Homo sapiens: one gene and its partner. The protein of the gene in region 2 purifies or fractionates together with the protein of the main gene of each other region. This does not show direct contact. Each region holds a gene or a part of one and is shown on either strand. Other genes may lie near its edges.

What was found.
Region 1: the proteins of SH3BP5 (region 2) and RNF146 purify together in Homo sapiens (affinity purification with western blotting, with the first as the bait; one study listed by BioGRID). This does not show direct contact.

The regions. Positions count from the first base shown.
Region 1 is NC_000006.12:127,286,134-127,289,062, reverse strand, and holds the end of RNF146 (E3 ubiquitin-protein ligase RNF146), read right to left. Parts: exon of another isoform or gene 2,886-2,929; intron 2,448-2,885; coding exon 1,370-2,447; 3' UTR 501-1,369; downstream 1-500. UniProt on the Homo sapiens protein: E3 ubiquitin-protein ligase that specifically binds poly-ADP-ribosylated (PARsylated) proteins and mediates their ubiquitination and subsequent degradation. May regulate many important biological processes, such as cell survival and DNA damage response.
Region 2 is NC_000003.12:15,256,616-15,259,811, reverse strand, and holds part of SH3BP5 (SH3 domain-binding protein 5), read left to right. Parts: exon of another isoform or gene 1-8; coding exon 9-51; exon of another isoform or gene 52-761; coding exon 762-981; exon of another isoform or gene 982-1,178; intron 1,179-2,205; exon of another isoform or gene 2,206-2,698; coding exon 2,699-2,959; exon of another isoform or gene 2,960-3,196. UniProt on the Homo sapiens protein: Functions as a guanine nucleotide exchange factor (GEF) with specificity for RAB11A and RAB25. Inhibits the auto- and transphosphorylation activity of BTK. Plays a negative regulatory role in BTK-related cytoplasmic signaling in B-cells.

The DNA of each region.
Region 1 (2,929 bases), on a different chromosome or scaffold from region 2:
CTATCTTTCAAAAGTAAATGTAATAAAAATGCACAACATAAAATGTTTATGATCCCAGCAATACACTTTTTAAAAAATGTGAAAGTCAAAGAATTAAGTTCTAGTTCTGACTCATCACAAGAGGTCAAAAGTATTTGCTACTGTAACATTCAATTCACATTTGAGAATCATGGTAAAAATAACTTGCATTTGCCTTACCATCATGATCCTACTGTTGAGTTAGGAAAATATGGTTAGACAGACTCACATTACTTTTTTTCAGAGGTAAACTCTAGATTACTGTGTCAACCCAATACTATTTGGCCATAGATGTAAAAACTACCAAATAAAAGTGGATTTTGTGGTCTACAACATTTTGTGTAAAGTGAATTCATGTCTGCTAACACCGTTAAGTCTGCCATTTAATCCAGAGTGTTAGACTACTAATGAATATGGTAAGGAAAATATAAAATATTAACGGTATATGCTATTTGAGGAATTTTAAGTCTCACAGGCTTTAGTTTTATTTCCATACATGTTTATTATATACACACTGCCTATAGATTCTGTTTAAATAATCTCTAAGAAAAAAATCAAACTTTTCTGAGCAGGTGATTAAGCTGAAAACAACCAATTAAAACCACCACTTTTTAAGTGACCTTTGGTCACAAATGTCAAAATGTTTCCACACCCTTTCCACCCTCAAACAAGAGACAAACTGTTTTTGATAAACTCTAGTATTTATTAAATTATAAATTTTGTAATCAAAAAGAAAAATGCAGACCAAAAAAACCTCAAACTATAAGACTAGACAGCAAAGCCTATGGGAACACCATGAAGTGTGTTACAAACATTCTGAAACATAAGTTACTGGCTGTTTTCATTTCCATTTCAATAACTTTACTATAAAATAGTTGTTATTCATCTATTTTGAAATCCCAAATTCACATCTATTCATACATTAAATTATGTTTCCTGTTCATAATATCAAACATCTCACAGGTGCCAAATTTTAGTAATGGTCTTATGCCAATCCATGCAGAAAAATAAGACACAATGCAGGAGTCAGATGAGGACCATTAATGCACAGATAATACAAACACACTGGCCAAAAGAACTACAGAAGTTTTTAAAAAGTATAAAGTAAACAGACCTCAAGAAAACTGGGTTATTACTAAACAGCTCTCAACTATTAACACCCAAGTTCCTTACATTAAATAAATTTCTCAACAGAGACATGTTAGACATTTTAATTATGAGTCTATCCTTCCCATACCCCTTCCCACCCCAACTCCCAAAATGCACTACTAGGGATGAGTATAATGTTATGTGGGCAGAAATTTACAGGTAACCCTTTCAACCTTGAGCATGGAGCTGAAGACATTTTTATTTAAACTTCAGTTACTGTGCACTGTCCATCAGGCCTTCTAGATCTGACACTGACACTCACTGTTCCACCCCCTGCTACTGATCGATCAGTTCCCGATCGATCTGATCGATCGGGTACTGTCTGGTTTGCATTAGAAACCAAAAGTCTCTGTTGGGTCAAGGAGTGCTGTGCAACAACTGCAGATACATCCTCACTATCACTACTGGCATCTGATTCAGTTTCTTCAATGGAGGTGTCTGGTGCTGGTACCCTGCCTGAAGATGGTGATTCATGATCTTCTTCTCCTTCTCCCCTATGACTCCTTTCAGCTGTGTTGTCTCCACTGAGTTGTAAATGAGCAAAAGAGTCTTCCAGAGAAGTGCTTGCATCAGGGGATGGTGTTGCAGGGCTTGTTAACTGACCATCTACTGATGTTAGGGGCCTTACAGAAGACACTAGGGGCTGAACAGAAGCTCCACTCTGTGCTGATACACTGTCCGCTCCGTCAGCAGAGCTCTCTCTTGCTAGGTTTACGGTATTAGCATCACAGTCTAGCCTAAGTCCAGCTACTCCCTTCTTTGGTATATCTATTATATCTCGCTTAATCTTCCTGCGACGTCCATGTTCATTTCTCCTATATTGAACCATGTTTTCAAGATCAGCGACATACAGAAAGCCAGCAATTAACATTTCAGTGTTCTTTTTACCTTTGGAAAAAGCATCTTCCAGCTCTCTACTAGTGCGCTCATCGTACTGCCACCACCCATTTCTTCCTTCATAATACCATGCATATTCACCATTTCCTCTACTTGCTGCCTTGAGTTCTTCTGGTGACAACAAGGTTGGCTTGTCAAGGAAATCCTCGGGAATTTCTTGTCGACAAAGAGCACACCGCTTTCCAAGCCATGAAGCTCCTTTTACACATAGATAGCAGAAAACGTGCTTACAGGGCAGACTGACTGGATGAACACATGTTTGCAGACAAATGGCACATTCAGGGACGGTTAAAGAAGGTGCAGTATTAGAACAGGACTCGTTCGCTTTCCTGTTTGTAGGAAGCATGTTTATTGAATGATCAATTTCACCACAGCCAGCCATCCTAAGAAAAAATACATATAATATTAAAGTCATGTTTTAATTCTTGCAATATCTTAATTTAACAATTATGAAAACACTAACCACCTATGATGTGCATTATATGCAAGCCACATACTAGACAATGGGGATATGAAGATGAAAGTAGAGGAAAAACTCTCCAACCGATGAAAATTTTTTGTAAGCATCTACTTGTACATACCTTGGGAATGTATAAAAATTCCATCAGTGCACTTAACAGATCAGCCCTGGAGAAACACACTGAAGAACTATATAATGAAAAGCTGCATCCAGTGAGGGGAAAAGGATACCTTGAATCATGGCAGCTATTATACAGTGAAATGAATGCTAGACAAGAAATCTAAAAATCTGAGTTTTAGAGTCCTTTATTAATTATGTGCTCTTAGGCACTCAGTTAAACCATTAGTCTAAATTTCCTTACCTGCAAATCAGAGTTTACAAAGCTCAGGTAAAAATGGACAAAAA
Region 2 (3,196 bases):
TTCTGCAGGCCTTATTTTGAACTCAAGGCAAAGTACTATGTGCAGCTCGAGGTATGTGTAGCTTTGGGCTTCGTCACTGATGAGATTTTTCTGCACTCAAAGCTTCACTTTTCTGGGGTAGCAGAGTATCACATGGGCCACTTGCTATAAGGGGAAAGTGGAGAGACAGGCTTTACTGAGTTTTCAGACCTCAAAATTGTCTCGGTTGGGTCTTCAGTGGTCTCTGAACCTCTGTAACTGCCATTCAGTCACCTTCTCTGTTGTACTAGGCCAGTGGTTCTCACAGCATGCTCTTAGGACCAGCAGCATCAGCATCACCTGGAGACCTGATAGACCAGGTCCCACTCTAGACCGACTGAATTAGAAACTCTGAGGTTGGAGTCTAGTGAGCTGAGTCTTAACACCCAAGGGGATTTTGATGCAAGCTCAACTTTGAGAACCACTGTACTGGGAACCAGATGTCTAGACTGTGGGACTTTGGTGTGTCTGATGCCCATTTTTGCTTCCCTGATGGGGTTTGTTCCACCAGTGAGAGTTTTTGGATATTAGAGGTTGTCACCTGGATGGGATCTGGGGATGGTGGTGGCTGATTTTGTCTGGTGAATGAATAGCAGTTACAATGGTAATTAGGTCTTCAGTCATGTCTTGGAAAATTCCTTGAAGTAGAATGATGGGCAGAAAATGTACTTGAACCTGTCATTCAGAAAGCATCTTAAGGCTAGCAGGGTAGTCTTCACTTAGTCTCCTGTTCTCTTGATCAGCAACTGAAAAAGACTGTGGATGACCTGCAGGCCAAACTGACCCTGGCAAAAGGCGAGTACAAGATGGCCCTGAAGAACCTGGAGATGATCTCAGATGAGATCCACGAGCGGCGGCGCTCCAGTGCCATGGGGCCTCGGGGATGCGGTGTTGGTGCTGAGGGCAGCAGCACATCTGTGGAGGATCTGCCAGGGAGCAAACCTGAGCCTGATGCCATTTCTGGTAAGTCAGGGGCTCCACTGGGTATGTGGGGAGATATCAGACTGTGTGATTTGTTTCCCAAGGTCCTCACTTTCTCTGGCCATCAGTGAAAGGTCTCAGAGTTGGGCAGGCCTGAGGGCTATTTCTGGTGGGTTCCCATGTTTTATGGAACACTGTGTTCATTAAGAAGGTACTAAGTGTTCCTCAAAGTCAGGATTCTGTGGTCAAATAAATTGGGAAAATGTTACACCTTCACTCCTCTTTGAGAGTCAAAGTATACATTTGAACATTCAAGGCTGAGAAGTCCTGCAGGAAAGAAGAGCTGTAATCAGATTTGATTCAAAGCTACCTTTACATCATTACTAAGGCATGATGTGGGCAAGGGCCTAACTTTGTATTTCAGTTTCTTCACCTGTAAAATGGGGAGTATGACGCTATCTACTGTATACTATCCGTTGTGTAGGGTGGTGGTTCAGCTTACATGAATCAACCCCTGACACCCAAGAAGCACTCAGCAAATGGTGGCTCTTACTGACATCTGACCATAGAGACCTCTTTTCCCAGGGCCTCCCCCTGGAAAACTGATAGAAGTTTGACTTGGTTTCTGTCATGCTCATCAAGAAAACCCACCCAACGCTGTCTTTGCATACTTCCTTTCTTTTCCTTACCTGTGCAATAATCCCTGTCGGCTCTTTCCCAAGCTCCTTCCTCAGGAGTTAATTCCTTCAACAAATATTTAAGTACTAGGTTCAAGGTAAAGGAAAAGGAAACTATCATTTGAACAACTACTATGTATGAGGTACTTTAATATATACATCATCTCAAACCCTGCATGGAGAGGATCATGAAGCTTACAGAGGTAAAGTAACTTGACCAAGGTCACACAGCAAGTAGTGGAGTTAGGGATTCAATTCAGGTCTGAGCCCATTTTCTGTCCCCAACATTACAGTATTTATCATTTATAAGAAACCTTTATGGAATGCTACAAGGCTGTTTTTAAAGAGAAAGGGGGGGAAAAATGGAGTAGGAAAGTTCTAATAAGGAGTGGGATTGTGGGCAGGCTGAGGGAAAACCGCTAAAGGCCAAAGAGGCTTTGAAACCATGGGAATAACATGTGTCTGGGCCTTGTTACTTTGGTCTACCAAATAATGTGGCTACAGAGCATTGTAAAGGATTTCTGTTCTTTTGCAGCAAATGGTGATGTGGGTAGCCTTTGAGTGTGTTCTTTATGAGATCAGAAGTTACCTGGAGATAACAAAGGTCCCAACAGATGTTCCATGCTGGCCTGTTTCTTCTAGCAGCTCTTGCTTCTATTGCCCTAAGAAAGAAGCCTGAGTCCAGCTGGCTTTGTTTGGGATATGTTACAGAGGACTAGAACCTCTTCCTGTGCACATGAGGATGTATTTGGGGGACTGAGGTGGAGTAAAGGTCCTAATTTGTGGCTGAATTAATCTTCCATTTTTAGGTGGTGTCTGGTGACACTGATTTCTTGGCAGGGTTATAAGGTTATTGGAAGGGCGCTTAATATCCATGGGATCCTGCTGCCAGCTGCTTCCCTTCCAGCTGCTTTAGAGGCTGGTCATTCAGGCTTGGGAAGTCACATTCCTTCATTAGGCACTCACAGAGGTAGAGACTCTTTAGTCCCCCATGCTGTGTCTAGCTGCCTGCCAGCAGCAAGCACTTGTGGTGTTTGAGGAGGTGACAGAACCCATGTGACTGGTGTTCTCTCTCAACTTAGTGGCCTCGGAGGCCTTTGAAGATGACAGCTGTAGCAACTTTGTGTCTGAAGATGACTCGGAAACCCAGTCCGTGTCCAGCTTTAGTTCAGGACCAACAAGCCCGTCTGAGATGCCTGACCAGTTCCCTGCGGTTGTGAGGCCTGGCAGCCTGGATCTGCCCAGCCCTGTGTCCCTGTCAGAGTTTGGGATGATGTTCCCAGTGTTGGGCCCTCGAAGTGAATGCAGCGGGGCCTCCTCCCCTGAATGTGAAGTAGAACGAGGTGAGTAGCAGCCTTCTCACCCCGTCCCAGATGCCACACTGCCTCTGTAGCCTGACTGTTGTGCCATTCCATACCTCTGCCAGGTCTCAGGGCCCCCATGCTGCATTACCAGGTCTCTGTGGTTGTGCTGTCAGTATTGATCACTGAGGTTGTTTCCAAGTGCTGTTCTGGGGGGGCTCCTGGCTCCACTCAGCTTCTATAAAGTAGAGCTTAGGTCCTATGTCTCACATCAGAACA